Linked DNA regions of Homo sapiens: region 1 is linked to region 2. The links come from fine-mapping of genetic effects on gene expression. A gene starts in region 2. The other region holds a variant in brackets. All regions are shown on one strand. Distances are from middle to middle. Region 1 overlaps FRRS1 (ferric chelate reductase 1). Region 2 holds the start of FRRS1 (ferric chelate reductase 1).

The links. PIP is the estimated chance that this variant, and not a neighbour inherited with it, causes the effect.
Region 1: its variant is fine-mapped to the expression of FRRS1 in monocytes after R848 (Quach 2016, PIP 0.95).

What each region holds. Positions count from the first base shown.
Region 1 is chr1:99,737,259-99,742,500 of GRCh38, forward strand. It overlaps FRRS1 (ferric chelate reductase 1), which reads right to left. Exons shown (of 17, transcript NM_001361041.2): 5 at 4,921-5,015; 6 at 3,535-3,682; 7 at 828-1,010. Among named protein-coding and RNA genes, the nearest start is that of FRRS1, 27 kb to the right of the region's middle. The variant GA/G (reference allele first, on the strand shown) is at 2,960.
Region 2 is chr1:99,764,510-99,769,751 of GRCh38, forward strand. FRRS1 (ferric chelate reductase 1) reads right to left here and starts at 2,126. Exons shown (of 17, transcript NM_001361041.2): 1 at 2,098-2,126.

The sequences.
Region 1 (5,242 bases), 27 kb before region 2:
AGTGAGAATCGGCTTAAAATAAATGCTGCCTTCTGCTGATTTGACAAAGGAGCCTACTGTAATACATGCTGCCTGGATATACAAGTTTAATTCTCTTTTTAGGAAAGGCACTGATGACTACTAAAATAGGACAAAAGAGCAGGAACACATGTTTTAGTTCTGGCCACTTGAATAAACAATTCTGGTTTGAAAAGCATTACAAAAAACATGACATTTTATGCAGAACAACTTTTCTTAACTGTATTTCCTGCTTTATCGCAAAGAGACAGACAGACATAAAATGGCAAATACACTGGAAATAAAATGATCTTCCAAACTTTCCTTAGGACAGCCTGTTCTTGGAAGTAATTGCCCAACTGTTAAAATCATACAGTACTCAAAGCCGTTTAACTTAGAATCTGTTCTAAGTTAGCTTCTCCTGGATGATCATTTGACCCTGGAACAAACAGTTTCAATGATTCTCCTTTTGGTTTTTTGTTTGTTTGTTTTGGGGGGGTTTTTTTAGATGGAGTCTCACTCTGTCGCCCAGGCTGGAGTGCAGTGGCACAATCTTGGCTCACTGCAACCTCCACCTCCCAGGTTCAAGTGATTCTCCTGCCTCAGCCTCCCGTGCAGCCGGGATTACAAGCGCCCGCCACGACGCTAGGCTAATTTTTGTATTTTTAGTAGAGGTGGGGTTTCACCATCTCGGCCAGGCTGGTCTTGAACTCCCGACCTCGTGATCCACCTGCCTCGGCCTCCCAAAGTGCTGGGATTACAGGCATGAGCCACCATGCCTAGCCGTGATTCTCCTTTTGTTACCACTTATGTAAGTGAGAGGTACCAACCATCCACTGATCATGAGACAATGCAAAGGATAAATAGCCTTTACTGGGGCCGCTCATTTCAACCATCACCGATTGGTCATCTCTTGTGAAGGACAAGAAGACACAGGAAGCCTCCTTCTCTGGGTCACAGTTCAAAGGACTCCTAATACAGAACTTCTTGTTCCCACAATCTGAGGCACTGAACTAGAAAAATGACAGAGGAAAAAAAAATCTTAATTATCAAACAAGCAGTTCATTGGCAATGACAGAAGAATAACTACCTTCAAGTACGGGTAGCTCCCAAATTAATGAGAATACCTTTCCATAATAAGCATTCAAATAAGGAAACAAAAGACACATCCCAAATTAAAAATGATCGGAGCAGTAGTTAGGTTATGAACTTTTAAACTTAATTAATTTTAATTAAAATTTGGAAAACATACACTTGTTGGGCTGTAATTGTGCAAGGGTATTAAAGCTCCTGTAATACACAAAACATTTCACATTAAGTAAGTTTTGGAGCAAAGTTTCTGATAGGTTTTGAGAAATTTTTGAGTTAATATTTCAGTCCCTAAGACTTAAATGACACTAACGTTCCTGCCTAAAGGGTATCCTCTAGTTCTCAGAGATGAAGATTTAAAAAGCAAACAAATAAATACTTAGAAAGCTATTATATTTAGGTTGTGGATTCTGCTTCTAGAATTCTGATTCAAATTTCGTACTAAAATGACATAAGAAAAAAATGGTCGCCCCAATTTACCAGCATTCCAAATAACCATAGTGATTTATTGGGGGGAGAAATAAGCAACAATCGGATGACTTAATCCCGAGCTTCTTGATAAGGAATATAAGACGAAGAGTCTTAGAAAAAAAAATCAGCTGTATAATCTGATAAATGAGCAGACTTTGTTCGAATGCTGTGACAGTAAATTTCAGAAGAGAGCTAAACATTATGTAACTAGAGTTCATGGAAATGTAAAGACAGATCATACTAGGGTGAAGAGAACAAGCCACTGGGGAATTAAGAAACTTGGACTTTGGTCTCTGCTCTCCCCTTCCCTACATCATGTTTGCCAAAGGACTTGTTCTCTCAGGATCCCTGAACCTTCAACTACACAACAAGAAAACTGTAAGAAATAGACCCTGAGGTATCTTCGAGCTCTAAAAATGCTATAAACCTTTGACTCTGAATGAACCTCCCTATAATTAGAGATTATAAACATGGCACAAAGACACAATAAAAGTTCCAACAAGAGCCTTTGATTGAATATACGGAAAGACAACAATATTGTCAACAGATTCCTACTGGGAAGCTCAGGTCCAAACTGACTGTGTATTTCCCTAAAGCAGCTTTTAATTAAATAAGGATTAAGCCTAAACTGAGAGCTAGTACAAATAACAGATCTAATTGTATGGTCAAACGAAAGTGCAACAATCATAATAATGTAATCAAATATAGTGCCCATATGCTATAAGACGTTGAAGAGAAGGAAAACAAAATAAGGAGCAAAGCGCATTACTTTGTCTTCTCTATGTGAATAAAAAGGTACAGAAGGATAATAAAAAGAAGGAAAAAGAAAAGGAACTAATGTTTACTGAATATCTATTAAATGCAAGACACAGTTATAGAAAACTTACATTCATTATTTTAATTCTTACAGTGATACTAAGAGCTAAATATTATTACATCTCTTTCTATAGGTGAGGAAACTGAGACTGAAAATTAAGTAATTTGCCCAAAGACACACGAAAATTAGGCAAGTCAGTATTTAGGCCCACGTTTGTTCTTTCAACTGAAACAACCTTTCTCAACACGTTTTTTTTTTATTGTATCCACTTCTGAATTGAGAAGTCTAACTTATCAGAATTTCCTGCAGTAAAACCCTTCTTCCTTATGTTTCTAATATGCATAACACTTTCCAAGATACGTCTTGTCAATCATAAATCTTTTAAATCAGAGGGCCTAGATGAAATTCTAACTGATGAATTTACAAGACATTTTCTGTTGTTCAGCATATACAATTCCCTAGGACTCTCTGACCTTAATGAAATGAGATCTAAGAGTTATTATCACCATTTCAAGAATCTCCTCCAAATCTTGTCTAAATTTAACTTAAGCTCTTCTTTTGATATCTGGCTGTGTTTAAAAGAAA[GA/G]AAAAAAAACTATTGCTTCATCAGATTTATTTTCAAATGAAAACATATCCACCACCAGTAAAGACTACAGGTGAATGTCATGACCAAACCTTGAACATGCAGGGTCTTGCATTCCCTTCATTCTAACCTGTAAGTCATAAGGTTGCAATGAAGGCTTCCTTCAGATTCCTACAGAGGACTCCAAAACGTGCTACCACTACCCAGCACAGCTACTTCTCTATGCACTTTGCCACACAAAATACACAGAACCACAATTTCCAATCACAAATTTACCTGTTTGCTCACATAGAGAAAACTAAGTACAGCACTTTACTCCTATGTAATGTCTTATTTTGTTTACCTTCTCTTCTGTATTTTATAATATATGGACATTATATTTGGCCACATATTATTTAGATTACATTTAATGAAGCTATAAAAATGTTACTAAAGCTGGGCACAGTGGCTCACACCTGTAATTCCAAGCACTTTGTGACTCCAAGGCAGGAGGATCACTTGAGCTCAGGAGTTCGAGACCGGCCTGGGCAACATGGTGAAACCCCATCTCTACAGAGAAAATAAAATTGTTACTTACTGGTTTGGTTAAGTGGGAAACGGGAGGTAACGTTGGCAAAGGTACTACTGTAGCTTTAGGTGTTGTAAAAGGAAATGCATTTGGTTGTGAAATTATAGGACCAGGAATCTTCACCCAGTAGATTTTATACTTCTCAACAACTGTGACTCTGAAATGCAATACCAGTGAGATTAGAACCCTAATTGTGTCCTGTCACAATCAGATCAAAACGTTAAAGGAAAAAAAAAAGAAAGACTAAACTAGAAAAACATGACTTACTACCTAACAGGACTATTAATTTTGCCTGAGGCAAATCTCTAACCACTCTCTCCCACCCGATCACTTGACAAATTTTTATTGCTTTCTCTCCCTCTGTCCCTCTTTCCTTATTTGTCTGTTTTGGGGGCATATTCACAATAGCCATGATGTCAGACCCAGGGACAAAACTGCACAGATTTCTACTTCCTGGCATATGAAGAACATACTACAAGTCATTTCAGAGTGCAGTATTCAATTCTTCCAAAGGGCATGTGTAGCAAGCAACAACAGCAACAAGCTATAATAGAGGCTGCATCAGTAACCATCAGCTTTCACTGGGGTCACACCCCCTTTTTCACATTCCATCTAACATACCAGTGCAGAGTTGTGTTACTGTGTGTTGGGGACCCACGCACAAAGTGAAGAAAACAGTCATGTCAGGATAGCAATCCTTCCCTTAAAATATATGTCCATATCACCCCTCAGGAATCATTAGATGGCATTATAACATTCCATTTCCCCTTGTATGTAGGATAAGGAAGAAGTTCTGTTTTAATTCTACTGAGTTTCATAATTTGAGAGGCATGCAGTCTTTCTGAGAGTCTAATCTGCAAGTTGTAATACTGCAAAAGAGTAAGAGTCATCCAAATTTCAAGACTTTCATTTGTATTCTCATGCTAATACAGGAGCCAATCTAAAAGTAGTATTATATAACATAAAGACTCAAGTATTAATTGATAGCTCTTATTAGGATTAAGGCAGTACAAGACTTCATTCACTTAACAAATGTCTATTAAATGTGTATTTTGTGACAGGTCCTGTGCTAGGTGATAGGTATACACTGGTAAAAAGCAAAACAAACTCCTACATCAGGAAGGTTGTGTTATTACTATACCAAAGCTCTCCTACATGTGTGAATGTCCAATAGGTACAGAAAATGATACAGACTAATTATGGTTTCAATTATACTAGTAGTTACAGAGTTGTAAACTTTTTTTTCCTTTTTTTAGAGATGGGGTTTCACCATGTTGCCCAGGCCAGTCTCAAAATCCTGGGCTCAAGTGATCCACCACCTTGGCATCCCAAAGTGCTGGGATTATAGGCATGAGCCACCATGCCTGGCCCAGAATTATAAACTCTTATACTCACAGAAACTGTGTGTGATTTGGAGCACTGCTTGGAGCATTCCAGTAGACTTTAATTTCTGTTTTTTTAGATGCACTTCTGTGACTCACTGCTGATCCCTGAAATAAAAGGGAAAAGAGCTACCATTCAGTCACTCAATAGCTCAGCATGGCTGGAACTTCTATCATTTTGCGAAGTAATTTATCATTGCATGACATTAGCATTCTGGTGAAGACTATTTTATTTAGAAGAAGGACTCAGGCACTCCATAAATGAAATGTTGATTGGTTGAGAACATATTAGCAGCTGGCTCTGTGAATAAATGAGAGTCCACAGAAATCTAAGA
Region 2 (5,242 bases):
TATGTTACTTTTACTATTTTTGTTTGTTTTGATAAAGAAGACCTTCACCCCTCTTTCAAGATCCATTTAAAACGCCGTCAACTACTGTCCTATGATACAATGAAGTGTATGGACTTTGAAATATCACAGACCTAGGTTTGAATCTGTCCATTAATGTAATCCAGCAGGCACCACCATAGTGACCCTGGACAAATTATTTAACCTTACTGAGTCTTAGTTTTCTCACTTGTTAGAGACAATGCCACCAATATCAATGGCTTGCATGAGGATTAAATAAAATACTATCTCCAAAATATCTAGCACAATGACCACCATTAACAAAGTCTCCCATATAAAACTGTCTTCCTTTCTTGGATTCTTGCCTAATTCCACCAACCTGAAATAACTGTTCACTCCATAAGCTTTAGTTTTTCCTAATAAATTTTATCATGTTTTTCTGCCACATTTGGTGACTTGTCTTTTGGTAAACCTCTGGATATCAGTAAAGGTGTCCTACACATTGATCTCCATTCATTCTGACTAGCAGACAACCTTCAAAACAGTACTCATACAGTGTGATTGTTATGTGAATTTTGAGAAAATCCAATATTAAAAAAGCTGACAGGTGTGAAACAGAGAGTACACTTCACCAAAAAAATCAACATACTGGCTAACTAAATGACGAACTAAAACTCACTTCTCCAACCTAACAAAACCATCTCTTAAAAGGTCTTTGTTTTCAATAAGCTGATAGATCAAATTAAGCCCCCAACTTCAGTTCTATCCCAGTATAATACTCAAATCTTACCACTTTTTTAAAAATACAGAAGTGGCTGGGCGCGGTGGCTCACGCCTGTAATCCCAGCACTTTGGGAGGCCGAGGCAGGCAGATGACCTGACGCTGGGAGTTCGAAACCAGACTGACCAACATGGAGAAACCCCGTTTCTACTAAAAATACAAAATTAGCCGGGTGTGGTGGTGCCTGCCTGTAATCCCAGCTACTCAGGAGGCTGAGGCAGGAGAATTGCTTGAACCCGGGAGGCAGAGGTTGCAGTGAGCCGAAATCCCGCCGTTGCACTCCAGCCTGGGCCACAAGAGCAACACTCCGTCTCGAAAATAATAAATAAATAGGCCAGACGCGGTGGCTCAAGCCTGTAATCCCAGCACTTTGGGAGGCGGAGGCGGGCATATCACGAGGTCAGGAGATAGAGACCATCCTTGCCAACACAGTGAAACCCCGTCTCTACTAAAAATACAAAAAATTAGCCGGGCGTGGTGGCGGGCGCCTGTAATCCCAGCAGTATACTCAGGAGGCTGAAGCAGAAGAATCGCTTGAACCCGGGAGGCGGAGCTTGCAGTGAGCCGAGATCGCGCCACTGCACTCCAGCCTGGCGGACAGAGCGAGACTCCGTCTCAAAAATAAATGAATAAATAAATAAATAAAAATAAAAAATAAAAATACAGAAGCAAATGAAAATATCTGAACTGAAAAGTTTAGCTATGTTAAGAAATATTCCTAATAACACATTTACAATTTGAAAAATCCCCTTTACCCTTTAGGGCAGTATGACAAGCACACACAAAAATAAGTGCAGTGATAACACCTTGCCACCCTGGAGTCTTTCTGAAATTTTAACGACACACCAGGGCTAGGGAGTGGGAGGGTAAGGGGACTAAAAGTTCTAGATAAAAAGCCACTTTAAAAACCAAATAAGGTTCTAAGTGACCCTGATATAGGTAACCATGCCACTAGCTTTAAATATAAAAAAAGAGTTCCTACAGTTTTAAATTTAAAATTAAAAACAAAAAAAAAACTCCTGCAAGAATAAAGTCAATGATTTTCAGGATCCCAAACACGTCTCTACTTATAACCACCCATATCTTGGAATTAAAGCTTGTTAGTCAAAGTCACAGGACATATTAACCTAACTCGTTAGTGAACACTCATTAGCTCAATTCAAGCTCCAGAACATAGTTTCGGAATACAGCACCCGTTCTGCCTGGCCGACTGCCCTGGTCAGCACAGGCACTCGCTCTCCAGTCTGTCGCTAAGCTGGATTTGATTTTTAACGCTTTACAAAGAGCTTTGACATTAAGGAAAAAGACGTGACACTTACCTTGAGAAGCGAAGGCAGCCTAACCAACTTCCGGTTTTGTTACAACTTGTATCACATTTCAGCAGCTGGGTGGAGCCAGTTAAGCCTTGAGCCAAAAGGGAACCTTTCCCAAACTAAGCTGCAGAACTTGATTTGCAAGACCAGTGCTAGTTTTAGGACTCCATTTCTGAAAACTTAGAATTCTGTTTTACACTAAGGAACAGTGTTTGCCAACTAGTACCTACTTCGCCACAAAAATTATAGTTTTTGTGTTTAATTGCAAAACTATTTGAAAATACCTGTTCTATAATAGTGCTAAGTAAAAGCAAATTAACTTTTAAAAAGTGGAAAAAGATCAGATTGCATAGAACCGAAACCTTTCTGCAGTGTGAATGATATAATGCAAAAGAAATCTTTTATTTTGCAAATTACCCCTGAAATTTAGGAGTTTTGTTTCTTTTTAAGCCTTTAATCTGTTTCACAAGACTCTTTTGCAAAAGAAAAATTTTAGGGCTAGGAAAAGACAATGTAATTGAATTTTTAACAATCTTTGTTTTTATTTTGTTTTTTGTTTTCCTGTTTTTTACTTTTTTTCTTCTCTTTAATGTAATTGAAAATATTAAACATTCCATTTCAGACCTTGAGTGACATTGTAATTGCCCAGTGGGTTCACCTTGCCCGCTGTCTAGACAGAGCCGATTTATCAAGACAGGGGAATCGCAATGGAGAAAGAGTAATTCACGCAGAGCTGGCTGTGCAGGAGACCGGAGTTTTTTGTTTTGTTTGTTTGTTTGTTTTGTTTTGTTTTGTTTTGAGACGGAGTCTCTGTCTGTGGCCCAGGCTGGAGTGCGGTGGCATGATCTCGGCTCACTGCAGCCTCCCCGTCCTAGGTTCAAGCGATTCTCCTGCCTCAGCCTCCCCAGTAGCTGGGACTACAGGCGCCCGCCACCACGCCCGGCTAATTTTTGTATTTTAGCAGAGACAGGGTTTCACCATGTTGGCCAGGCTAGTTTGGAACTCCTGACCTCAAGTGATTCCACCTGCCTCAGCCTCCCAAAGTGCTGAGATTACAGGCATAAGCCACCGCGCCCAGCCCGGAGTTCTATTATTACTCAACACAGTCTCCCCAGGATTCGGAGATCAGAATTTTTAAAGATAATTTGGCGGGTAGGGGCTTGGGAAGTGGGAGTGCTAATTGGTCAGATTGGAGATGGAATCATGGGGGGTCGACGTGAGGTTTTCTTGCTGTCTTCTGTTCCTGGGTGGGATGGCAGAACTGGGTGAGCCCAATTACCGGTCTGTGTGGCATCAGCTGATCCACCGAGTCCAGGCTCTGCAAAATATCTCAAGCACTGATCTTAGGTTTTACAATAGTGATGTTATCCCCAGGAGCAATTTGGGGAGGTTCAGACTCTTGGAGCCAGAGGCTGCATGACCCCTAAACCATAATTTCTAATCTTGTAGCTAATTTGTTGGTCCTGCAAAGGCAGACTGGTCCCCAGGCAAGAAGGGGGTCTATTCAGGAAAGGGCTACTACCAATTTTGTTTCAGAGTCAAAACATGAACTGGATTCCTTCCCAAAGTTAGTTTGGCATATGCCCAGGAATGAACAAGGACAGCTTAAAGATTAGAAGCAAGACAGAGCCAGTTAGGTCTGTTCTCATTCACTGCCATAATTTCCTCAGTTATAAAAGGCTTTGCAAAAAGCCTTTTTGCAAAGGCGCTTTCAACATATGCAGACTGGAAAATAGATTATGACCCATGCCTTGACCTGTGAATGCTGGTTATCAATCAACCCCAGTAAATTCTTTAAACCATTTTTAAAGAGAGAACAGAGAAAGGAACACCATCACGTTACGCTTTCTCTTAAAGAACTAGTCACAATTAACAAAAGCCCCTCTCTACAGGTTATTAAAGAGAGGCTTTAAATAAAGATGACCCAGAGTTGGTTTGCTATCCTAAAGCTGCTGGGAACATGAATAGTTTTAAACTAAGTCAGCTGATCTTCAGTTCTTCAAAGCCTCAAGTGGTGAAATAGCCTTCTGCAGATAACAGACCCTTTCCAGGAACTGTCCCCATTGCATGCCAAAAGTATGATATGTCTATAAAACAAAAACTCTTCGACTATATTATCAGAACCCTACATTCTAAAGCACTCTTAGGAAGTGGTACGACACAGTGGGAAGAACTGAATGGAGAGAGAGGCTAGCTTTGTCTAAAACAACCCTTTCACTAGGCTCAGTGGCTCACATCTGTAATCCCAACACTTTGGGAGGCCGAGGGGGGTGGATCACGATATCAGGAGTTCAAGACCAGCCTGGCCAAGATGATGAAACCCTGTCTCTACTAAAAACACAAAAATTCGCCAGATGTGGTGGCACACGCCTGTAATCCCAGCTACTCAGGAGGCTGAGGCAGGAGAATGCTTGAACCTGGGTGGCAGAGGTTGCAGTGAGCAGAGATCACACCACTGCACTCCAACCTGGCCAATAGAGCAAGACTCCATCTCAATAAATAATAAATAAATAAAACACCACCCCTTCTGAGACTATCATTTCTCTCCATGTCCCCAGCTATAATTCCACCTTATCATTCCCTTCCAGATCACCTCTACCAGACTCTTCATCAACTCATCAGTTGTCACAAAGGAGACCAATTTTATTAAAATTAGTTTAATGGAGCTTAGATCCTAAGAAGTTAAAGCTACCCTACTGGTTACCATTCTCATGCCTCTATATCAGCAGTTCTCAAACTTTTTTTATTTCAAGGTCCCTTCACAACTTTGAAAGATTATTATGTACATCAGAGATGCTTCTTTATGTGGGTGATATCTATTAATATTTTTGTATTAAAAATTAACAGAAAAAGTTAAATATTCATAAATTTGTTTTTAAGTGACAATAATAGTTACATGTTAACACAGTATCTTTTCTGTTGCTTATATTATTGTTTTTCAACAATAAAAAATTTAATGAAAAAGTATAGCATTTGACTAGTCTAAAAAAAAGAAAAAGTATCATTGTTTAAATTGTTGCAAATCTCTTTAATGTCTGGCTTAATAGAAGACAGTAGGATTCTCATATCTGCTTGCATTCAATCTTTTGTGATATCATGTAACACCTCATGTAGCCACTGGAAAACTCCACTGTATATTCATGAGAAAATG